Linked DNA regions of Homo sapiens. The protein of the gene in region 1 purifies or fractionates together with the protein of each later gene. This does not show direct contact. Each region holds a gene or a part of one and is shown in the gene's direction. Other genes may lie near its edges.

Region 1 (6,900 bases):
GCTGGAAAGAACCAGTTTGGGGGTGAAAAGCATAGGCTTATCTCAAATGGGTAGCGGTGCCTTAGGTACATCCTACTGTGGGCACCATGTTAAGTTTTGGGGGTTTGAGGCTCAGAGGAAAGGTCTGGCCTGCAGACAGAAGCTTAGGGATCTTCGTAGAATACATGGAAGCTGAGGTGAGCCTGGATGAGCTGCCTGGGGAAAGAGGGGAGGATCAGGGAGGCTCCAAATTGGTGTTTTAAGAAGCCCCACATTTAAAGACTATGGAGTGGAGCATGAGGGTGCAAAGCAGATTAGAACGTAGCATTACTACAATTATAATTCATCCCCCATCTGCTTCATGGCTTCTGCCATCAGACACAAGCCCCTAGGTTGCTGAACAGCACCCTTTATGCTGTGTTCCCAGGACACGGAATGTATGATCCTGCAGGAAGACTCATGGAACCAATGGGTCAAAGGAGGAGCTGTCTCTGATAAGGAAGTGTTTGTGTAAATAGAAAATATTTGCTTGAGTAAGAGCGAGGAGTTGGGTGTCAGGTGGAGATGGGTCTCCCAGAGGTGGTCTGGGAGCCCTCGCGAGTCAGGCCCTCAATGTCTCCCCTAAATCACTTTGTCAGAATTAGTGAAGGCAGAATCTCTGCAGTGAACAAGTTATGTTCTTTTAGAAAATAACACAATGCGGAGGGAATTCTCAAAAACAACCATGCAAGTGGTGGCAGGAGTGGCTGTTGTAGGGGAGGGAGGAGCCTACTAAGCAGGGAGGAGGCTGGGTGCAGAGGCCTGGCGGGAGGGGACTATGTTCCCAGGTGGCTGACCCAGCTCAGCTCCACGCCCCTGTCCCATGGTCATGCCAGCAGGTGGACCCCAGGGGCTCCAGCTTTATTCTGGGGCCTCTGAGAGCCAGGTCAGCCCTATGTCAGCTCCACGATCTCACTGAGCCATGCACTTACAAGGGTTGAGTTGCTCCAGGACCCTGAGAAGGACAAAGACGAAAATGACTCAATTGAAAATCTCACTATTCACCCATGGCCTGGCATGTGCCACACACATATAATTATCATCTGCGTGGATCCCCACCGACATCTCGAAGCAGGTCCCTCTATCCCACATGTCAGGGACAGGCAAATGCACCATGGTCACAGCCTGGGACCCCATCTGAGGCAGGCTGGCTGCAAACCCAGAGACGTCTCTATCCTGTCTTCTCCCTGGCCGGCAACCTTCATTGTTCCCTGCGGTAGGATGTTAAAGGCAGCTTCCTGGCACTTCCAGACCAGGGACCTTGGGCTGCCTGCTGGGTGGGTCAGTGCTAAATGGCCCCCTATGAAGAAGGGCACAGCTTGGGGACCTGGAGCTCAAGGGATCACCTATTTAGATTCGCTGTCAGGACATCCAGTATAGGAGGAAACTGGCTTGGAATTCTTCTGGGGAAGGGGCCAGGAGGAACACAGGGTAGTGGGGGAGTGGGGGCTTGCAAATGTCAGCAGACAGCCCCCTTCCCCAACTCCTCCTTCCCACCTCCCACCCCCCATTGTCTCCCCTCGTCGTCCCTCCCCTCCTCACCTGCACTGCACTCCCAGGCGGGTCAACAGTCTCTCCGTGGAGCTTCGTGCCCTCGGGGCTTACCTCCTAAAAACCTTCAAGTCTGCACCCCTACTGTGCCTCCGTGGCTGCGCCCTGCTTTCCACCCAGGATCTGTGCTGATTGGTTTGTTTGTAACCACACCGGGCACGTTGTCCATGCAGGCACTTCATGAGGTTAATTAATGTTGTCCCATGAAACCTCAGGACAGCCACCTCCCAACTTGCCCTATTATTCATTTCATCTTTTTCTTTAAATCGTTCCACTTTTCTTTGGCCCTAAAATGTATTTAAAACGAAACTAAATTACTTTTATACTTGGAAATTCTAACCTCACCAGCCTGGGACCAATGACTGTTAACATAAATAGCAGCTGCGCTCCCGGAATCCCAGAGGGTCTGGAACTCGAATTCACAATTCCTGGAAAGGTGTTTGTTTTCGTTTTACCAGTTGTCATGTGAATCGGTAAAGCACTTCAAAGTCCGCAGAGGAGCCGGATACCAAACCAGGTTCCTGCCGCCGAGCCCGTGATCTTTGGACCCGATCTGCTCACAGCTGGGAGCTGGCTCTTTTGGTCTCCAGGGGGCTCTGGTCTTCAGTCCCAGGCACCAGGCACTGAGCTAGCAGCAGACACTCCATAAATATTTGTCAAATGAAGCACACAGATGATTAAATAAATGAAATTGGAGCGTTTTATTACTTGCGTGGTGTGGGCTCTTAGTCACCCCCAGCTGCGGAGCTGTGTGCCGGAGACTGTAGATGGAGAAAGGTACTTTGCTAGAGCTGAGCCCCGGGAACAGGACAGGTGACTCACTTTCAAGTCCATTCATTTTTTTCCCACCAAAATAATAACTATGTTTACTTCCAAGGTATCTTCGTAGATTCAAAACTCCAATTATTTTTTAAAACATTAGTCCAAATGTAAGTTACATTTGTGACAAGCTTAAAACAACTATTTGCCACTCCAGCCTTAAGGAGACCAACTTTAATTTCCGGAGTATGTGGGAAAGGAAGTGGCTCCCTGGTCCCCCCAGGAGGCCCCCCGAGCAAGCATCGTCATGTTGGGATGTGTGAGTTCCCTCCAAAGAGCGGCCGGATGGGAGTGGGGAGGCAGTGGGGAGACGCGGCTCCCCGCTACAGGCTATGAAAGAAGGTCCGCGCCCGTTTGGAAGGGGGAGCCTGGAGACACTAGGTCTGCGGCTTTCAATGCGCTGACTTGGGGCAGCCTCTCTCTTTCCGAGTTACTAACACAAAAACACAGTTAATGTCGTTAAAATACCCTCTCCTTTAGCTCCGCCCTCCTGTCTTCATTATTAATCTCCTGTGGCCAAAAATAAGCCTTCACTCACCGTTGCGTCTCAGGAATGAGTGAGTGTTTTCTGAGGTGTGGACGCGTGCGTGATCTGTGATGCACTTCGGCCTCTAACCCAAATATCCTTCCAAGGCTGGGAATTTTTTTTCCCCATATGTGAAAAAAAAATCTTTCCTTTTCAAACCATCTGTTCTACCTGTAAAAAGAGGCTGTTATTTAGGAAAGGATGAGGGAACTCTTGCATTTGAAATGGACTTTAGATTTGCTGTTGGGTAATTTTTTAAAAAAAGTTACTTTCTGAGAGGAAACTCGTGTAAAAAAGCAAGACGTGAACCTGCAGGGAATTAGACTAACGAGTGAAGAAAGCCAATTTCAAAAAATTAGGCGCTGTATGATTCCTGTATCTAAACATAACATTTCTGAAATAAAACAATTTTAGAAATAGAGGAAAGATTAGTGATGCCAGGGCTCCGGGGTGCGGCTGTAAAATCGCCACAGGAGTGGCCAGGTGGGGGTGGATACGGGAAGGTACACAGATGATTACATTGTGTAAAACTAATACATGCAAAGGAAGACGAGTAAAACGGCAAAACTGAATAAGATCGGTGACTGTATCAAAGTCAATATCCTGGTTGTGAGATTGGACTTTTTTTTTTGGCAAAGTTTTGCAAAGTGGTAACACTGGGGGAAACTAGGCAAAGTGAATGATTTCTTACAACTGCATGTGACTCCGCAATTAAGGAAAAAAAAAAAGCAAAGAAAAGCAGGGCAGCTGATGCGCACGTCGAGACCCGTGAGAAGCGTGAGAAGCTCTGCTCACCCAGGGGAGAGCGCAGTGACCCGCAGCGTCTATTCATCCGTCCGCAGTCACCGGGCGCTGGCAGAGAGGGCGCCCGGGGGGCGGGTAAGTGGGCGGGGCCTGGGGGCGGGACGACCTACGGAAGTGACGTAACAGGGCGGAGCGCGCACCTGGGCACCTGGGCAGCCGCCGCGGCGCTGGCTAGACGTGCGCGATGGAGGGCGACGGCGGGACCCCATGGGCCCTGGCGCTGCTGCGCACCTTCGACGCGGGCGAGTTCACGGGCTGGGAGAAGGTGGGCTCGGGCGGCTTCGGGCAGGTGTACAAGGTGCGCCATGTCCACTGGAAGACCTGGCTGGCCATCAAGTGCTCGCCCAGCCTGCACGTCGACGACAGGTGAGCGGCCCGGGCGGGGCGCTGGGGCGGCTGGGGCCCGGGCTGGGGTCGGGGTCGGGGTGCTCTGGTCCCGGGGTCCTGCCTCTCTCTCCCGAACTCACCCCCGGAGCAGCTTCGGGGGGGAAACCAATTGCCGGCGAGGCCGCGGGGCTCCGACAATGTCCACTCGGCCTGTCCGGGCCGGAGGGGCGCGGGGGCTTTGGCGAGCCCGGGCTCGATCGCGCACGTCGGGGCCGGGTCAGGCGGCTCCTCTGGGGCTCCTCTGGGGCTCCTCGGGGGCCGCGTCTGCCCGGACGTCCTAAGGCGCCCAGTCGTGCTTCCTGACACTCCCCGAGTGGCCCTGGTTTTCGGGGTCTCCAGCTCGCCTTGCGCCTCGGACCCGCGCCCTTGGGAGGCGCGTCCGGCCCGCCCGGGACCCACCGGGGCGCTGCGGTCTGCGCAGGGCTTAGAAAAATTGCCATGTGGGCCTCTGGGCTTTGTGAGTGGAGTTAGCCTCCGTTCGACTTACTTAGTAATTTACGTTGGAACACAAATTGGTGTAAGACTGTAATTATTTCGGTCGGAAGCTTCGGCTTGGCTCGGGCGAGGCTTCCCGGGCGCCCGGCGCTTGCGCGGTGGAGCTCCGGGGCTCGGGCCTGGCAGTGGGGTCCGGCACGGGGCCCGGGGTGTTGATCCGTCCGCCCAGCGCTTCCTCGCCGCACACTCTCGTTTTAGCTGACTTAATTTCGAGACCGACCCGCTAGGGAAGGGCCTTGCATTCAAGTTCTGTGGCCGTGCCATGGGGCCCTCCTGCACCCCAGTTTCCCAGTCCAAAAGTCAGAATGGAACCTGCCTGTACCTACCTAGCAGGAGTGTTCAAGGTAACAAAGACGAATGGGAAGGACGCAGAGCCGCCCGTGTTAAATTCGGTGGGTCGGTTGTCGTCTGTGCATAATTTGAGAGGTAGGGAGAATGTTCTTGAACAGTACCTCTTTGTTGTTGTAGATTTCACTGTTTACAGTTGATTTTGATGGTTCATATGTAAGGCTCAATTTAGCACGTTTTAATTATTTATCCTTTAATGAAGCTTACCTTCTACATGGAAGCTATGCTTGTATTTTACCTAGAGATTCCTTGAACACATACACTCAGAAGCGACACCTTTTTAAAATACCATTTAGCCTTTGCTGCCTGGCAGACCTGGTTTCGAATGCTCGGCTGATTGAGTGATGGGGCCGCTAAGCCCCAGCTTTTCTGCAGAATCGTTGTGATGCCTGTGTCTGGGGTGGCAGTGCGTGCTGCAGCCCCATACCGTGACTGTGACGCCTCTGTGGATGAGAGGCCTGTCCTCTCCCTTTGCATTTTCGTCCTTGGCTAGGAGACTACACAGCAGAGATAGTGGTGGCTTTTTGCCGTAACCCTCAAATCCAGTGTTTCTTGGAAACACCAGTAGAGTGGTGACGAGTGTCATCAAATCACCACTAGTTCAAAGGTGAGATGCTGGCCCAGGCTGTGCACTTTTTCTCCCCTGCCTCAGATTCTGGGAACTTCTCAGGCCAGGAGGGGTGCTGTGGTTATTTTGATGAAATCCAAACCACTTTGAATACCAGCCAGTGGTTAGGTTCTGAAAGGGAACCCTCTCCATAGGGGCATTCGTTTTATCTCTTGGGGATGTGTGTGAGCTTTAATCATCAGTGAAAATTTTCACACCACTTTCTTATATTGGAAGAGCAAAGTAAACAAGCACCTACCTGGACTGACTCACCAGCTCACATCCTTAGGATCTTCTGTTATTTCTAGCGACCAGTCCCTTATTTCTTGGGTGGCCTGGTTGGAGGGAGGCTTTCTCCACTTAAGGTGGATCACTTAGGATATTGCATAGCTTGGTTGAAAAGTGTTTTGTACTTTAACTGGAAGCCTTTCCTACCCTGCCCAAAGCAGACAGGTGGTGGCATGTCAGGTGGCTAGGTCGAGGTCAGCATCGCCTAGCAGGAAGCATTTCACCTCCTGTGCTCTGCTGGGCCTGGTAGAGTAGGTTGGGGCTTTGCCATGTGCAGCAGTGGCTGATCTTTCTGAGAAGTTGGTCAAACCCTGGCTCTTTGTGAAGCTGATTCCTTTAGGTTAATTATTGACTGTATTGAGCCTGAGGTTCTTGTTAGGAATGTACATCAGTCCCACTGTGCTCCAGGAGCTGGTTGCATTGCAGTCTCACAAGGTTGTACCTAGGCCTTGAAGTAGTCGCTGTGCCACTTGCCCTGCCACATTTCTCAGTGCTTTTCTGACGAGCTGCCTCCCACCCCAGCCCCTCATATTTGCAAGATGTTCCCTGAATTGGGGCATAGGATTCTCCTAGGGTCTTTGTGTGCAGCCCCCGGCCCTGTACCCCTTCTGCCTAAGTCTTGCTTCTCTTCTCGGAGGGACAGCCCCTCTCACCCCTGACACACGGGTCTGGGCCTCTTCCAGGCTGCTGGGGGTCAGTGATGGTCTAGTCCACTTGTTACATAGGAGCCACCACAGGTACAGGTGCAGGTGAGGCTGATTTTCACTGGCCAACGCTGCTTGCCTCTCAAGGTGGTCTGGGGTCTCCTGGCTCCCTGCAGCTCCCCTGGGCCAGGCCTTCAGCCGGCCCTTGGCCACAGCACCTGCTCGGGGCTTGTTTGATGAGCAGGCTGCGCCAGGCCATGTGAGCTTGCTTTTCTGTGCAGGAAAGGTTGGGGGGCCGCCCAGCCCCCAGACACTTAGCGAGGCTCCCAGGGACAGGAAGTGCCTGCCAGGGGGCCCTCCTGGGAGTTCACAGGTGACACCCCATTGATCTGAGATTACCTTCATCATGGGGC
Region 2 (7,035 bases), on another chromosome or scaffold:
TAAATCTTGACTTTTTTGGTGGGAAGGAACCTCTATATCTCTAAATGAAATTCTTCTACTGGTAGTTCTTGATTAAAAAACAAAAATCAAGCCAGGCGCGGTGGCTCATGCCTGTAATCCCACCACTTTGGGAGGCCAAGACGAGCGGATCACGAGGTCAGGAGATCAAGACCATCCTGGCTGACACGGTGAAACCCTGTCTCTACTAAAAATACAAAAAATTAGCCGGGCATGGTGGCACGTGCCTGTAGTCCCAGCTACTCGGGAGGCTGAGGCAGGAGAATCGCTGGAACCCGGGAGGTAGAGGTTGCAGTGAGCTGAGATTGCACTACTGCACTCCAACCTGGGTGACAGAGCGAGACTCCATCTCAAAAATAGCAAAAAACAAAAAAACAAAAACCAAGAAACAATTTTAGACATTAGCTTCTTTTTCCCCATCATTATAAAGTTATTTTGCCATTTGTTTTTGGTTCCTATATTGGTTTTATCAGAATTAGGTAAATCCTTTTTTTCTTGCTTCTTCCACCTAAAAAATGATAGTAAAACATATCTTTCTGCAGACTTCTGAAGAAAATTATATAAAATTACATGAAGTGGTACCATTAGTGTTATCAAGTAGAACCTACAGGATAGGTGGCAGATTTGGAAGTTTCCCACCTATTTTAATGTTAGAGACCACATATCTATTGACATTATTGCTAAAAAAAAAAATTCCTCACTCAATCAAACATATTTCCAATACCTGTGAAAAGCAGTGTCTTCCAAGAAAATGTGAAGAATTTGAAGACTGATTCTGGCTTAAAAGCACTATGGTGTAGGAATCAAATACATCATGAAAAATCTACATTCTAACCCCTTTCTCAAAAGGCACCAGGAAGAGATAGTTTAATAGAGGGTAACAGACAATCCCATTATCCAAACCATTCCAGAGAGAAAATGATGGAAAACTTCCCAACATTTCCTATGAGGCTAGGTAGCTTCTACTAGAACATACAAGTGAAAGCTGTATATCAAACTTACTTAAAAATATAGATGCAAAAATCCAAAATAAAATACTTAGAATATCAAATGTAGTTGTGTTTTTTAAAAAATATATTAATAGCACATTGTGACCAAGTAAGACTGAGAGGCAGACAGTGTAATGGTTAGGAGTCTGGCTGTGCTGCCAGACTCCCTGGGTTTAAATTTTGGCCCTTCCACTCACTATGTGGCCTTAGACTTATTTAACTTACTTGTGACTTAATTTCCTCATCACAAGTGGGACTGTCTACCTCTTAGTGAGATGTAAGGATTAAATAAACACTTAGAATGTCTAGTACAAAATAAGTGTTTGAGAAATACTAGCAACATCCCAGGAATGCAAGGATGGTTCAACATTAAGAAGTCTACTAATAGATTAAAGACAACATCTTAATAGATGACCCAAAAAAGTGGGTTTTTTTTCTGACTCCCAGCAGGAAACAATTTTTTAAAAAAGATTAAAGTTTTGGAAGCCAGGAGCAGTAGCTAACGCCTGTAATCCCAGCACTTTGGGAGGCCAAGGCGGGCGGATCACCTGAGGTCGGGAGTTTGAGACCAGCCTGACCAACATGGAGAAACCCCATCTCTACTAAAAATACAAAATTAGCCCAGTGTGGTGGCACATGCCTGTAATCCCAGCTACTCGGGAGGCTGAGGCAGGAGAATCACTTGAACCCAGCAGGCGGAGGTTGGGGTGAACCAAGATCGCACCATTGCACTCCAGCCTGGGCAACAAGAGTGAAATTCTATCTCAAAAAAAAAAAAAAAAAGATAAAGTTTTGGATGTGTTCCTGATTTGTAGAGGACAAAAAAACTTCTATGTAAGCTGGAAGTAGAAAGAAACTTCCTTTATTTACAGATTATCTACCAGAAACCCATAGCAACATTACACTCCCTGGTGAAACAGAAGCATTTCCAGCAGAATTAGGTATAAGAAACAGATGTCCATTGTCTCTACAATTATTCCATGTTCTGAAGGCTTTAGCCAGTGCACAAAAACCAGAGAAAGAAAAAATGCAAATCATGTAAAGGAAAAGACAAAAGTGTTATTTGTTGATGAAATGATTCTCTTGGAGTTTCCAGATAGGCTATCAGCTGAAAAATGACTAGCACTTACAAGACTTCAGTAAGGGAGCCAGACACAAGATAAAATATTCAGAAATTAATAGTTTTGCGATCAGGTTACCAATCTTTCTGATTTGCCTGGAACTGGGAGGTGTTCCCCAGGACACTAGACTTTGAGTGCTAAAACTGCCAGGGTCCCAGGCAAACTGGAACAGATGAATCACATTAAAAGCAATAATCACTGGGGAACACATCCTATTCACAACTGTAATAAAAGCTATAAATACCTGGGGACAAAATTTACTACTAACTAGAGGCAAGAGGGAATTAAAACAAAATATTCTCCCACCAGATTGGCCAGTATTTCAGAAGCTGCTAAGACCTAGTGTTGGTGAAGGTGTTTGGGAAAATAACAGCTGTTCAGAGAACTACTTAGTAGATTGAGCAAATCAATAATTTCCATCCAAGAGTTCCAGTTCAAGGAATCTGTTCTGCAGAAATGCTCACACATAGAGATTGCAGATTGGCCTCCAGAAGAGCTGAATCCATTTGCATGCCCACGGGGGGTGTCTGAGAGCTCCTCTTGCCCAGTGTCATCCTTGTCAATTCAGAGGGACTGCTCTCTGAGTACTGTAATAAAGACCTGACTTGGATAACATTAATATTCTGTATTGTGAGAAAGGAAAAAGGACGATCCTACTTTATACAGATCAGCATTGAGTAACTCACTTACTAAGTAGGTATAGACTCAGCAGCCACAGCTTCTTTCTGGACCACATTCCCAGGTCACAGAGTTAACATAGCCAGGAAGAAAGAGCACCGCACCGGGAGAGGGAAACTGAGCAGCTGACCCTAGCTCTGTGCCCGCTGGCAGCATCAGTTCCCTTCTCTGGGGGTCTTCATTTTACTATCTGAAATGAAGGACCCCCCCCAAGCATCTTGGGGTCACAGACCCCTGTAAGAATCTGCGAGAAGAAATGGCCCTATCTCCCCCACTTGTTGTAGAATTCTGCCCAGTCTTCTCCTTGAGGTTCAGTGGATTTTTGGTGAGAATCTGAGCGAGCGGACAGCTAAGATTTCTTGAGTCTGAATTATAGTTGGCTGAGTCTACCGTAGTCTCAGTAAGCTTTACCAGACACAATTCATGTATTTCCAACTAATACACCTTTTAGAAATCACACCTCTTCTTTGATAGGCAGTGTGTGCACATGGTGCGTAGCTGGAAAGGCCATACAGTGAAAACCCACCTCCCTCCCTGCCTGCCTCCCTCGCAGGAGTCCTTCCTGAGATTGGGAAACAGTTACAAGCATATCTGTGAATTTTTATAGATAAAAAAGATCTTAAAGTTTTACATATGTAAAATATATACCTTCTTCAAAGAAGGATATGAAACAACAGTAAAAGACAGGCATAAATGTAGCAGTTTACAACACAGAGTCAACTGTGAGCTCAGCTGTGGCTGAGAATTAATTTTAGCTCTGGGTTTCTGGCAACTAAATCCAAAAAAGGAAGCACAGCAGGTGACACAGCTGACATTGTCTCATAAAGGGGAATATATGCTTTTAATATATTTAAAAGGGAGCTCTCCCCACCATCCTGAGTGATTCGTATTTATTTTTAATTTGTACTTTGCTTTGCTTTTTAAACTTTGCTTTTTTTTTTTAGCAAAAACTAATATAACCACACTCTTAAAAGTTTAAAACTAGAGTTAAAAAAAAATTCTGTATGTTCATCATCTTAGTGTAATTATTGTCAGCACTGAGGTATTTTTTTCACCTTTGTTTCTTTTTGCTGACTCTCATTATTGTAATCATGGTATCATTTATATCTTTTTCCATTGAACATTATATTATAAACCATATTTCACATTTAGTTTCTAAAATCCATAATTTTTAATAGCTCCATAATGTGTAATTAATTCTTTATGCAACTTTATAATGGCCAATAATCAGGAAGCTGTTTCTTTTCAGCTTTTTGCTCTTAAAAGGAATATTGAACATCTTGATTCACTTAAATTTGTCTGTTTCTCACTTTGATTTCAGAATAGATTCTCAAAAAGCAAAATTACTGGGTCAAAGAGTGAAGAGATTTAAGCCCTTTTTACACACTTCCAATTGGATTAATGCCACCAGCAGTGTCTGAGAGCGTAGTTTTTGCTGCACTTTTGCCTGAAATTAAACTTTTCAAAGAAACGTAGCAACTGAATGCTTATTTTATGAGAGACTCAGGGCTTTAAGAACTACTTTATAGGAAATGTAAGAACAGCTCTGAATTTGGCCCTTCTATTCTACACTGACGTAAATTGTCAGCGTAAAACAGAGAAACCTGCACACATATCACGCCAGGACTCACGCATAGAGGAGCCGGAAGGCAGGACATTAAAATGCAACTCAGCGCACGCTGCACTGTTTCCCAGGGGAAGGGTGGTTAGCCGAAACTCATGCCACACCCATTACTGCTTTTTGAGATAAAATAGGAAAAAAGTATATAATTCTACATAGTTGAGTAAGTTCACACTCACACTTGTTACACAGGGCTTCATGTACCAGTGGCCGGTTTTATTTCTTAAATGGGTAGTAGGTGTGTAGAGATTCATATTATTTTTCATATGCTTTTGCATGCCTTAACTCTGTCAAAAAAAAGATATCAGTTGTCTCAAAGGTGTGGTCACGGAAAAGGCAGCTTTCATGGAGAAGGTTTTCAGCAGGTCATGGCTGTCTGGCCCCGGCCCAGTCTGCCCCAGGCCTGGCAGCAACTGAGGGACCCAACCCAGTCTGGATGGGTGCCCCGAGGAGGCCTCACCCACCAGCAGTCAACGCAGTGCAGCCAGGACCTGGCCAGGTCTCAAGAGAGAGTCGAAGCCATGAACTGATCTTTATGACATGAGTGCATCACAAACTATTGAAGTGGTGAGAAGCTAGTTTCTCACAGCTGCCACTTTAGCAATTGTGAGTTTTCTTTGGTTTATTTGAATTGAACATTGGGAGAGTGTAAGGTCTTTCTAGCTGTTGACAAATGGGATCACGAAGATTAAGACAAATTAAGACAGACCTATGGTGCCCATTTAGTTATCTAATTGTCCCTGTAAGCCTTCAAAAATGTTAGAAATGACCTTTGGCACATAAAAACTGTCCCCGAAATTGCTTCTTGCATCTTTGCTTCATCTGACTTGCAACCCTATTTTTGATTCAGAATGTTTTAAGTTTTCAACAGGTTGTACTAACATGATATGTCTTTAATAGGAATTTTAGCAAGTTGACACCATTTTGAGTTAAGAATTGTGACTTGTTTAAATGAATATGCTTATTTGTTAAAATAACATATTATGGAGAATGGAGAAGTATCCAGAATGTATAAACATTCTATATTGTTTAGCTAAATAGTTTTTAAGTCGTTCTCCAGTAAAAGAGGCAGAATTGTCTGTGAACTGGAGATGATCCATCCTCACTGGCTTTATACCATATTGTTCCAGTTAGAGTTGGTAAATTACAATAAACCAGTGTCATTCCATTTCCAAATAGAGTTTGAAATGATTTAGGAAACACTCACTTACATTAGTAGTGTATACTTTTAAAAGTGAAAGTTACCTGTAATTCCAGCACTTTGGGAGGCGCAGACAGGCAGATCATCTGAGGTCAGGAGTTCGAGACCAGCCTGGCCAACATGGTGAAACCCTGTCTCTCCTGAAAATACAAAAATTAGCCAGGCGTGATGAGTGCCTGTAATCCCAGCTACTCGGGAGGCTGAGGCAGGAGAATCACTGGAACCTGAGAGGCGGAGGTTGCAGTGAGCCGAGATTGAGCCATTGCACTGCAGCCTGGGTGATGGAGTGAGACCCTGTCAAAAAAAAAAAAAAAAAGAAAACTTCCCAGTTGGGCAGTGGCTAATGCCTGTAATCCCAACACTTTGGGAGGCTGAGGCAAGTAGATCACTTGAGCCCAGGAGTTGAAGGTCAGCCTGGGCAACATAGTAAGACCCTCTGTACAAAAAGTTTTTTTAAATTAGCTAGGCGTGGTGGTGTGCACCTGGGGTCCCAGCTATTCAGGAGGCTGAGGTGGGAGGATCACTTGAGCTAGGGAGGTTGAGGCTGAGGCTGCAGTGAGCGGTGTTTGCGCCACTGCACTCCAGCCTGGGCGACAGAGCAAGACCCTGTCTCAAAAAAAAGAAAAGAAAAACTTCTGTAATGAATTGCTGGTTGCATAGCAGTCATACCTACTCTATTGTTGGAAAGTTTTGTGGGAAAAGAATGAAGCACCAGAAAGGTAAACGTTCTTCCAGCCTCTTTCTGTATTTCTAACTTTTTCTTCCAGATTCAGGGCTAGAAGAGGGGGCAGGAGTGCACAGACCCTTGACACTTATTCCATCACCCATTGTGAGCTTGAAACCAGAGGGGGGACTCAGAGAAAACCCTGGGGACCTGTTGCAGCCCCACTGCCAAAAAGCTTAGAGTTGGCAGCCTCCTGCTAACTGTCTGGAGTCACTGACTAACATCACACCGTATCAGTACAGAAGATGTTCAGTTCACAACTCCCAAATATTTAACTGGAACATCTGTTGCTATGAGACAGTGGCAAAATATTTTTCAGAAGTCACCAGCTTCCTCCTTTCATCAAGAGCACAGAAAACTTCATGGCTATTCATGCTATAAATATTGAGGAAGCTGGGTAAATGGTGTGAGCTGCAGAGGGAGTCAAGTTCAGCATCTCCGTCCACTTACAGCTAGCTCAGGTCTGATTGATTGGGGTTCTATGTTTGCCAAAAGCCACCTACTATTTTCAGTTGTTGGTTTCTGCTATTTTAATGAAATAGGTCCCAGGCTATTTTGACAGCTGCCCTGGGTCTTTCCTTTGTAAAATGTGACAGTTCTAGCACCGAGTGTGGACCAGCCCCGAGCTTGTTCCTCCCAATACCTATGTTGTAGTTTTGCCAGGTGCTGCCTGCTAGGTTGGG
Region 3 (4,297 bases), on another chromosome or scaffold:
AATGGTACATGCCTGTAGTCCCAGCTACTCAAGAGACTAAGGCAGGTGGATTGCTTAAGCCCAGGAGTTCGAGACCAGTCTGGGCAACATAATGAGACTCTGTCTACCCACCGACTTTTAAATAAATAAGTGAACGAACTGTTCTTTTGGGAGCAGTTTAATTCCCCTAAGCCCACCAGTAAATATTCTTGAAAGTTGAATGAGTTTCAAAATTGCGATTGGTAAATGGAGGATTTTAAATAAATCACTTACTTACTACTTAAATTCATATGTTAAAATCTAAACGAAAATCTAGTGAGAAATAGTTTTTCCCCCCTAAGTTTCTCTTTTCTAATTGAAAAGGCTGTGTTTATGTATCTTAATTTTTAACTGAAAGAAACACAGCCAAAACTGTTTTGTTTTTCCTCTTTACTCCTAAACATGAGCTTTGAAGAGCCTTTAAGAAGGCAGGTTTAGTGACTATTTATCAGTGTTCTGAATATTCTTTTCTAATAAAGGATGCATCGAACTTTTTTTTTTTTTTTGAGACGGAGTTTTGCTCTGTTGCCCAGGCTGGAGTACAGTGGCGTGATCTCGGCTCACTACAACCTCCACCTCCTGGGTTCAAGCGATTCTCCTGCCTCAGCCTCCTGAGTAGCTGGGATTACAGGCACCCACCATCATGCCCGGCTAATTTTTGTATTTTTGTAGAGACAGAGTTTCACCATGTTGGCCAGGCTAGTCTTGAACTCCTGACCTCAGGTGATCTGCCCGCCTTGGCCTCCCAAAGTGCTGGGATTGCAGGCGCGAGCCACCATGCCCAGCCCATCTAACTTTTAAAATAGAAAATATGTAGAAGTTTTAAATAGGTTGACTGACCTCACTGCTTTATATGTATCAATTTTCTACTGTTACCTCAGGGAATGTGCTTGGAATTAGGAGTGGCAATGACATTTTATGTTATTTCTCTAAATCATGCCTTTATCTAAAATTATTTTTCTTTTCCTCCTTTCACTCCCAACAGTGCTAGTTGCCGCAGACCAATCAAAGGGGCTGCAGGCCGGCCATTAGAACTCAGTGATTTCAGGATGGAGGAGTCTTTTTCATCTAAATATGTTCCTAAGTATGTTCCCTTGGCAGATGTCAAGTCAGAAAAGACAAAAAAGGGACGCTCCATTCCCGTATGGATAAAAATTTTGCTGTTTGTTGTTGTGGCAGTTTTTTTGTTTTTGGTCTATCAAGCTATGGAAACCAACCAAGTAAATCCCTTCTCTAATTTTCTTCATGTTGACCCTAGAAAATCCAACTGAATGGTATCTCTTTGGCACGTTCAACTTGGTCTCCTATTTTCAATAACTGTTGAAAAACATTTGTGTACACTTGTTGACTCCAAGAACTAAAAATAATGTGATTTCGCCTCAATAAATGTAGTATTTCATTGAAAAGCAAACAAAATATATATAAATGGACTTCATTAAAATGTTTTTGAACTTTGGACTAGTAGGAGATCACTTTGTGCCATATGAATAATCTTTTTTAGCTCTGGAACTTTTTGTAGGCTTTATTTTTTTAATGTGGGCATCTTATTTCATTTTTGAAAAAATGTATATGTTTTTTGTGTATTTGGGAAACGAAGGGTGAAACATGGTAGTATAATGTGAAGCTACACATTTAAATACTTAGAATTCTTACAGAAAAGATTTTAAGAATTATTCTCTGCTGAATAAAAACTGCAAATATGTGAAACATAATGAAATTCAGTAAGAGGAAAAGTAACTTGGTTGTACTTTTTGTAACTGCAACAAAGTTTGATGGTGTTTATGAGGAAAAGTACAGCAATAATCTCTTCTGTAACCTTTATTAATAGTAATGTTGTTGTAGCCCTATCATACTCACTTTTTAAGACACAGTATCATGAAAGTCCTATTTCAGTAAGACCCATTTACATACAGTAGATTTTTAGCAGAGATCTTTTAGTGTAACATACATATTTTAGAGAATTGTTGGCTAGCTGTACATGTTTTGAAAAGCTGTTTAGCTAGCTATAAGGCTATAATTGGAAATTTGTATTTTTTATTTACAGCAAAACATTTATTCAGTCATCCAGTTTGCTACCAAAATATGTTTTAGATAAGTGTGTGTATGTTTGTTTAGAAGTTAGAAATTGTAAACACTGGTCTTATGTTTCATTTGGATTCATTATTGCATTGTCTTGTTACCAGAAACAAATTTTGCCGAGCTTTTTTTGCCCTATATTTCCCAGCATAATTTGATTAGAAAGTACAAAAAGGGCCAGGCGCGGTGGCTTACGCCTGTAATCCCAGCACTTTGGGAGGCCAGGGCGGGTGGATCACGAGGTCAAGAGATCAAGACCATCCTGGCCAACATGGTGAAACCCCGTCTCTACTAAAAATACAAAAAAATTAGCTGGGCGTGATGATGTGCGCCTGTAGTCCTGTCTACTAGGGAGACTGAGGCAGGAGAATCGTTTGAACCCAGGAGGCAGAGGTTGCAGTGAGCAGAGATTACGTCACTGCACTGTAGCCTGGCGACAGAGCAAGACTCCATCTCAAAAAAAATAAAAAAGTACAAAAAGTACTTGCTTTTATATTACATCATAAGCAGTAGTTAATAAAGTTGTATACTCTTAAGAGGTGGGCATTATGATTATTTTTTATTTTTTTATTTTTTATGAGATGGAGTCTCACTCTTGTCACCCAGACTGTAGTGCAGTGGCACGATCTGGGCTCGATGCAACCTCTGCCTCCCAGGTTCAAGCAATTTTCCTGCCTCGGCAGAGACGGGGTTTCACCATGTTGGCCAGGCTGGTCTCGAACCCCTGACCTCAAGTGATCAGCCCACCTCAGCTTCCCAAAGTGCTGGGATTACAGGTGTGATCCACTGCACCCGGCCGGCATTATGATTTTGTGTACTCTTGAAATGGTTATCTTTGTGGATGATTTTTTTTTTTAAGCTGAAACTTACCTCATGAATAACTTGATTAAAGTAGTAGGTGATTAAAATTTCAATAGAATCAAATGAGACAAAAATTTTAAACTGACTCATTTGAGTTTCAACTTTACAGTCATTGACCATAAAGCACACTAAAAATGTAAGTTATTTTTAAATACATCTGAAATAAAAATACTTACTAAAAAGGAAGAAGCCGAAGATGTATATTTAGACCAGCACACAATTTTGATTTCAATTAGCCTTATTCTAATATTTAGCTTTTAGATCTTTCATACACATTTTCACGTACTTTGCAATTGAGACCAGAAAGACTTGTAGGTCTTTCTGCAGAATGAGTGGGTCCTTGCAAAGTGAGTGGGAAACTTACTCCTAGATCAGAAATGTTTGCCTCTCTGAGTAAAATGTTTCTTTCAGATGAGCCATAGAGGGGGCACCTTTTACTCAACTTTTCTTTGTTTTGAAACTTTGTTTCCCATACTGTTTTCAGCCTTTTGTTTATAATTAGAAATTGTGAGAAGCTTCATTTAGTGTTTAAAAATGTGGGGAGATAAATCAGACTTAACATGTATGTAAGATCAATTCACTTAAAAGTATGGTCCAAATAGCAAAAATAGGACCAGGTGAAACATGTAGTCATTTTTTAAAAACATGTACTTGGTCTTTTGTGTGTGTCTGTTTTATTCCATTAGAATAAATGTGTCCTTGATGTAAATGCAAAGCATTTCTTCCTGATTAAATTGTAGATGTAGACTTTACAATATAATTCAATAATAAAAAGTAATTAACCTCTAGTTTTGTCGTTGCAATAAATGGTTTTCAGATAGCACAAACTGTGATTTCTGGATAACATTTCTTATGTGATATTTATGGATTATTGTGTTTTATTTCAGTCTGTTCATATGTTTTACTTCTTATTGTAATCGGGTTCTCGTTTATTCAAAGGTAAGCAATGTGTAGCTACTGTACTCACAGAATGACATTAAGCGCTCCAAGGCACCTCTCCCACACCTAGTTCCTTTTTCCCACCACTTTTACTGTCTTTAGTATTTACCTATGACCCTTATGATTGTTAGTCTTGCTTTGAGACTAAGCCCGTGTCACTGTGATACGTCATGGAGCTGTGCTCACAAGATGAAAGTGCCATTATGTCTTCCTCATTCATGTGTCCCCAGAGGTGATTTGACTTAAATTAGTGTTTCTCAAGGTAGTATAGACACCATAATTAATTATAAGGCAAATCGCATCAAAGGCTTAAAACAACAAGTTTTATTGCATGCTTACCATGTGCTAGGTACTTTTCTATGTGCTTAATATGTATTGATTCACTCAATCCTCACGATAATCC
Region 4 (7,035 bases), on another chromosome or scaffold:
GATTTTCTTCTTCCTCTGCATGCTGAACACAGTACCTGAAGGTAACACATGACAAAGCTTCATTCCCTTCCTCTGCCTTATGTGTTGTACAGGAACACCAGTAGATAACACTGTGTTTATTTTTAGGAATCCCTGCTCTCATTTGAAGGGCCTTTAGAAATCTTTTTCTGTGTTGTCTGAAGTACTTAGTAGTATCTCTAGATGCTATGTTTGGGTTTAAATGGGTCATTGTGTTTCATCCCTCTCACCTCAGTTGCTTCATCACTGCTAATATAATATGATACCTTGTTACTGCAGAGTCTAGTGGGAATTTTAAGTTCAGAAAGTTCTCTAGCTGCCTTCACTTGCTGTGTTTTCAGTCTTGATGATTGCTTTAGTATGACTAATGAGATGGAGAGGTTAATAAATGGAATTATATTTAATTAAATTAATTAATTAATTTATTTATTTATTTTGAGATGGAGTCCCACTCTGTCACCCAGGCTGGAGTGCAGTGGCACAATCTTGGCTCACTGCATTCTCTGCCTCCCAAGTTCAAGCGAATCTCTTGCCTCAGCCTCCTGAGTAGCTGGGATTCCAGGCACACACCACTGTGCCCAGCTAATTTGTTTGTATTTTTAGTAGAGCTGGGGTTTCATCATGTTGGCCAGGCTGGTCTCAAACTCCTAACTTCAGGTGATCCACTTGCCTTGGCCTCCCAAAGTATTGGGATTACAGGCATGAGCCACCGTGCCCAGCCAGAATTATATTTTAAATGTTTGTAGGAGCTAAGATCCTTGGACTCATTGATCCTGTGTTCTAACTCCTGCTATTCAAAGTGTGGTTTGTGAACCAGCAACATTAGCATCACTCGGGCTTGTTAAAGTGCAGGATCACTCCAGGCATATTGAATCGGGATCTGCATTTTAACAGCCTCCCCTGGTGATTCTTCTCCTCACTCACATTTGAGAAGCACTGCTGCTCTCGACCAGTGGTCTTCACGCTGCCCCATTGAGCCTCTGAGGGGCCGATTTAGCTTGGGAGCCCTGAGCATTTGAGGCTCTGCTTCCTGTGTCCTTCAGAGCAGCTCTGTTTTCAAATTTCCATTCTATATAATTTCACATAGATTCCAATTTTAAAAAACATTTAATGACTATAATAATTTTGCAAACGACTGTCGTGGACTTCAGATAAGATCAAGTTGCCTTGAGCTAGGTTGTCTTAAGATGGAGAGCTACATATTTCAAACTGTTTTCTAAAGGCTAGAATATTGGGATTTTTATTTCAAAGATGAAAGGTCTGAAATGGGTTGGCCGTGATTTGCAAATTAGCACCGTTCTTTGTTGCAGAACTTTTTGACCAGAGAATACGAGGTAGCAGACCTTAGGAAGGCCTTTTCCTTGGAGTTAAGATTGGCTAGCTGCCCAGGGACGTTCCTTGTGTAAGGAATTTTCTTGTTGTTCCACAGGCCTTGGCCAGCATGAGTCTCAACACCCAGCCCATCCTCAATCTGGAGAAATTTCATGAGGGCCAGGAGATCCCCCTTCTCTTGGGAAGGCCTTCTAATGACCTGCAGTCCACACCGTCCACTGAATTCAACCCACTCATCTATGGCAATGATGTGGATTCTGTGGATGTTGCAACCAGGTAAGACCAAGCCGACTGTATAATCACAAGTTCTTAAATTAATTTCTTTGCTCTCTAAGGGACCTTGGGGCAGACTATTTCTCTGAACCAGGGTTCCTTTTTTTTTTGAGATAGATTCTCACTCTTGTTGGAGTGCAATGGCATAATCTCAGCTCACTGCAACTTCCACCTCCCGGGTTCAAGTGATTCTCCTGCCTCAGCTTCCTGAGTGGCTGGGATTACAGGCGCCTGCCACCACGCCTGGCTAATTTTTACATTTTTAGTAGAGACGGGGTTTCACCATGTTGGCCAGGCTGGTCTGGAACTCCTGACCTCAGTTGATCCACCCGCCTTGTCCTCCCAAAGTGCTGGGATTACAGCCGTGAGCCACCGCACCCAGCCCAGGGTTTCTTTATGTATAAAATATATACTATATTTGGTTGTTATTTTCCACCTTAGTAAAATCAAAGTGAAGAAATAGTAAACCACGTGCTCAGGATGAAGAGGGGGCTGATGATTCTTTAAGATATCTCTCCCCTTGATGTTGGAAGCCTGTTAAGTGATGGCTTTGGGAGGTGTTCTAAGACTTTGGATCATGGGAATCCTTACCCTATGGGTCTCAGATTATCTCATCATCTGCTTCCCCAGGGTTGCCATGGTACGGTTCTTCAATTCCGCCAACGTGCTGCAGGGATTTCAGATGCACACGCGTACCCTGCGCCTCTTTCCTCGGCCTGTGGTAGCTTTTCAAGCTGGCTCCTTTCTAGCCTCACGTCCCCGGCAGACTCCTTTTGCCGAGAAATTGGCCAGGACTCAGGCTGTGGAGTACTTTGGGGAATGGATCCTTAACCCCACCAACTATGCCTTTCAGCGAATTCACAACAGTGAGTCTACCTGCCCTCTGCTCCGCTCTGCCTTGTGCCTCTGTCCTCCTGATGGACTTTGATTTTTCCTTTGCTAATGTTTGACCTGTGCCTTCTATCCTGGCTCTGCTTTAGACTTTTTCCTGCCTTTCTTTCAGGCGTTGCTTGCCTTTTTTTCCTTGCTGCTGACTTTCTGTTCTTTTCCCTCATGGGGTAGATATGTTTGATCCAGCCCTGATTGGTGACAAGCCAAAGTGGTATGCTCATCAGCTGCAGCCTATCCACTATCGCGTCTATGACAGCAATTCCCAGCTGGCTGAGGCCCTGAGTGTACCACCAGAGCGGGACTCTGACTCCGAACCTACTGATGATAGGTGAGCATCCTTAGGGCAGCAAAAAGGTTTTAAAGGTGAGGAGGCTCTCACTAGCCCTTCTTTAGCACAGAGAAGGCAAAGTCTCATAGGCTTCCCATATCAGTGTTTTTAATTTTATTTTATTTTATTTATTTATTTTTTTGAGACGGAGTCTCGCTCTGTCACCCAGGCTGGAGTGCAGTGACGCAATCTCGGCTCACTGCCAGCTCCGCCTCCCGGCTTCATGCCATTCTCCTGCCTCAGCCTCCCGAGTAGCTGGGACTACAGGCGCCCGCCACCACGCCCGGCTAATTTTTTGTATTTTTAGTAGAGATGGGGTTTCACCGTGTTAGCCAGGATGATCTCGATCTCCTGACCTTGTGATCTGCCCGCCTCGGCCTCCCAAAGTGCTGAGAATACAGGCGTGAGCCACCGCGCCCGGCCTTATTTATTTATTTTTGTATGTATGTGACAGAGTCTTGCTGCTCTGTCACGCGGTCTGGAGTGCAGTGGTGCCGTCTCAGCTCACTGCAAGTTCTCCCTCCCAGGTTCAAGTGATTCTCCTGCCTCCGCCTCCCAAGTAGCTGGGACTACAGGTGCTGCCACCTTGCCTGGCTAATTTTTGTATATATATATTTTTTGAGATGGAGTCTTGCTCTGTCGCCCAGGCTAGAGCGCAGTGGCGTGATCTGGGCTCACTGCAACCTCCGCCTCTCGGGTTCAAGCGATTCTCTTGCCCCAGCCACCCGAGTAGCTGGGATTACAGGCACATGCCATCACGCCCAGCTAATTTTTTGTGTTTTTAGTAGAGACAAGGTTTCACCATGTTGGCCAGGCTGGTTTCAAACTCATGCCTTCAAGCAATTCGCCTGCCTCGGCCTCCCAAAGTGCTAGGATTACAGGCGCGAGCCACTGCACCCGGCTACTTTTTGTATTTTTAGTAGAGATGGTGTTTCACCATGTTTGCCAGGCTGGTCTCAAACTCCAGACCTCAGGTGATCCACCCGCCTTAGCGTCCCAAAGTGCTTGGATTACAGGCATGGGCCACTGTCCCGGCCCCCATATCAGTCTTTATGCTTTGGTTGACTGTTTTTCTTGGCTTCTTTATTTGATTTGTTCCCTGGCCTTGAGTTCGGAGTGCTCCCCCTTTTATTTTTCCTGGTGCTGATTGTAGGTGTTCTCCCTGCCCCTTTCTGTTTTGTTTGTTTTTTATGCACTTCACTCTGCAGTGGCAGTGATAGTATGGATTATGACGATTCAAGCTCTTCTTACTCCTCCCTTGGTGACTTTGTCAGTGAAATGATGAAATGTGACATTAATGGTGATACTCCCAGTAAGTGTGCTTGGGGAGATTGGCCAGCCCTGGGCAGGGGTTGGGGGCCCAAGGATGGAGTGGTCTGTACCTGCCTCCCTTGGATTTTGGCAGATGTGGACCCTCTGACACATGCAGCACTGGGGGATGCCAGCGAGGTGGAGATTGACGAGCTGCAGAATCAGAAGGAAGCAGAAGAGCCTGGCCCAGACAGTGAGAACTCTCAGGAAAACCCCCCACTGCGCTCCAGCTCTAGCACCACAGCCAGCAGCAGCCCCAGCACTGTCATCCACGGAGCCAACTCTGTAAGTGAGGAGCGGTGGATGAGTGAGAACCATGGCCTGGGATGTGGGCCTCATCTATTAGGAAAGCCAGGCTGTAGCTATTCATTTGCTGCTTCTCACACAATTTTCTCATCTTCCTCTTCATGGGCCCTAGAGCTTAGAGCCTAAGAGACCTACTTTTGACCCCAAAAGGAGGTCATCAGGCTTTGTTCAGGGTACAGCTATGATCCCCCTTATATAGTTTGTGGGGACAGAGAACGGGTGCTACAGAGATCATTTCCCACACATTCCTTAGGCTAGAAATCTGACAGGCCTGGTCCAGCCCTGCCAAACTGGGATTACAGGAAGGTACCATTGGGCACCAGGTAACCACTTTTAATTTCATGCGGCCTTTAGGAACCTGCTGACTCTACGGAGATGGATGATAAGGCAGCAGTAGGCGTCTCCAAGCCCCTCCCTTCCGTGCCTCCCAGCATTGGCAAATCGAACGTGGACAGACGTCAGGCAGAAATTGGAGAGGGGTCAGTGCGCCGGCGAATCTATGACAATCCATACTTCGAGCCCCAATATGGCTTTCCCCCTGAGGAAGATGAGGATGAGCAGGGGGAAAGTTACACTCCCCGATTCAGCCAACATGTCAGTGGCAATCGGTGAGAGCCTGGGCATCCCTTCTAGATGGGTGACTGAAGGACCTCACCTCAGTGGACCCTGGGCAAGGGTTAATCAGAAAGTCTGAGAAGTCTGAATGCTCTCGTGGTCCTGCCATCCCCAGAGGATGGTGTTCTGATCCAGGGGCTTAGGAATTACGGGAAGGGAGTGGCAACTGTAGTATAGCATAATTATGGCCCATACTCCCAAGATCAGGTACCCCTGCCTGGGGATCATAGGTGCCTCTGTGCATTCAAGGGCTCAAAAGCTGCTGCGGCCCAACAGCTTGAGACTGGCAAGTGACTCAGATGCAGAGTCAGACTCTCGGGCAAGCTCTCCCAACTCCACCGTCTCCAACACCAGCACCGAGGGCTTCGGGGGCATCATGTCTTTTGCCAGTAAGTGCCTTCAGCTGTCTCTCTCACTCCTGTGTTCCATTTTCTCTACAGCAGAGCCTGACTATGGCAAATGTTGCTTAGAACTTCACATGTAGGGCTAGGTTGGCATTAGCAAGCCCTAATCCAGTCATTTGGGTGATACTGAATAAGGCGTTTTCAAGTGAGGTCAGTAAAGGACAGGGACAGATTAGTCATTATGCCTGGACATTTCAGTCTATTTCAGGTAAGACAGCTGGATGGGTAACTGGAAAACAGGCAGTAAATTCAAAATCACACACTTGTACTTATATTTTGTGGAAATACTCTGGTCAAATTTGATTTGAGTCCATATCTGGTATCTTCTTTGCCTCATAACGGACTCTTCCATGAATGTGCTTTGAAATCGATATGAGATTGAATTTTGTGCTTAGATAGTATTCCCAGCAGTGCAGGGTCGTATCAGCTAAAGATTGAAGACAGACCATGGACTAGAGAGAGCGAACGTAGAGGATCCCTGTGATTGTGAGTTTCTTCAGCAGCCAGGGAGGGACAGTGCCAGCTTCAGACCAGAAGCCTGTTAACTGCCAGCTTTCATGCTGTGTAGCAGTGGATGAGAGACTTGGATATTATCATGTGAGGTGGACAGAGAAAGCTGTTACTGGGTTTTGGCTGATCCTGGCAGTGGCTCCATTGTTTGCCTGGAGTTAGACTTGATCCTTTCTAAGACAGATCAGAGATGATCTGATCCACCAAACTGGGATTGTGTTTGAAAAGGAGGGAGGTGCAGATGCTGATAGTCATTAGTCTACTGCTTTGATTACTTACTCTGCCAAGTCATCGCTCTTGCACCCTCCCCTTGATAGGCAGCCTCTATCGGAACCACAGTACCAGCTTCAGTCTTTCAAACCTCACACTGCCCACCAAAGGTGCCCGAGAGAAGGCCACGCCCTTCCCCAGTCTGAAAGGTAACTACAGCCTTCCTTTTGCCAAGCCAGGTTTCTCCGGGAGATGTTTCGGGCTGTGGGTTCATGTCAGGAGCCCTGCATCTGCTGAATCCTTTGACCTGGTTGTCGTCCCTCATGTTGCTCCTCATGGCTTTCACCGCACATCCTGGGCTCTGATGGTTGTCAGATGGAAACCATCTTTGTAGCTAGAGACGGCCCTGTTATGTCATTTAGGACAATGGCAACTGTGGGATTACTGCTGCTTCGCGGGAGGACCCTGTCAGGGTATATGATTAACATAGGGATCATCAGCTGCCCCCAGTCGTCTGCTGGGTTGCCACTGCATGAACTTAGGGCAAATTCCGTGCCAAGGAGCTGGCCCACCAGAGAATGGTTATGGAGAGCCTGGCAGCGTTCATAGAGCACAGCCTCTCACCTCTCACGCACTCATAAGCCTGTCAACCCAGGGCTTAATGAGTGCGCCAGGTAGTATTGGTTAGTTTCTAGGGGCAGTTAAAACCTTATGTGAAAGCCAGGCGCGGTGGCTCACGCCTGTAATCCCAGCACTTTGGGAGGCCGAGGCGGGTGGATCACGAGGTCAGGAGTTCGAGACCAGACTGACCAACATGGCGAAACGCCGTCTCTGCTA

What was found.
Region 2: the proteins of RIPK4 (region 1) and TUBB6 purify together in Homo sapiens (affinity purification with mass spectrometry, with the first as the bait; 2 studies listed by BioGRID). This does not show direct contact.
Region 3: the proteins of RIPK4 (region 1) and TMPO purify together in Homo sapiens (affinity purification with mass spectrometry, with the first as the bait; 2 studies listed by BioGRID). This does not show direct contact.
Region 4: the proteins of RIPK4 (region 1) and MADD purify together in Homo sapiens (affinity purification with mass spectrometry; 2 studies listed by BioGRID). This does not show direct contact.

Annotation. Positions count from the first base shown.
Region 1 is NC_000021.9:41,764,044-41,770,943, reverse strand, and holds the start of RIPK4 (receptor-interacting serine/threonine-protein kinase 4), read left to right. Parts: upstream 1-3,891; 5' UTR 3,892-3,902; coding exon 3,903-4,084; intron 4,085-6,900.
Region 2 is NC_000018.10:12,311,227-12,318,261, forward strand, and holds part of TUBB6 (tubulin beta-6 chain), read left to right. Parts: intron 1-7,035. UniProt on the Homo sapiens protein: Tubulin is the major constituent of microtubules, a cylinder consisting of laterally associated linear protofilaments composed of alpha- and beta-tubulin heterodimers.
Region 3 is NC_000012.12:98,546,570-98,550,866, forward strand, and holds the end of TMPO (thymopoietin), read left to right. Parts: intron 1-1,003; coding exon 1,004-1,289; 3' UTR 1,290-3,782; downstream 3,783-4,297. UniProt on the Homo sapiens protein: May help direct the assembly of the nuclear lamina and thereby help maintain the structural organization of the nuclear envelope. Possible receptor for attachment of lamin filaments to the inner nuclear membrane.
Region 4 is NC_000011.10:47,280,128-47,287,162, forward strand, and holds part of MADD (MAP kinase-activating death domain protein), read left to right. Parts: intron 1-1,447; coding exon 1,448-1,626; intron 1,627-2,253; coding exon 2,254-2,489; intron 2,490-2,685; coding exon 2,686-2,842; intron 2,843-4,050; coding exon 4,051-4,154; intron 4,155-4,247; coding exon 4,248-4,438; intron 4,439-4,813; coding exon 4,814-5,067; intron 5,068-5,323; coding exon 5,324-5,463; intron 5,464-6,305; coding exon 6,306-6,407; intron 6,408-7,035. UniProt on the Homo sapiens protein: Guanyl-nucleotide exchange factor that regulates small GTPases of the Rab family. Converts GDP-bound inactive form of RAB27A and RAB27B to the GTP-bound active forms.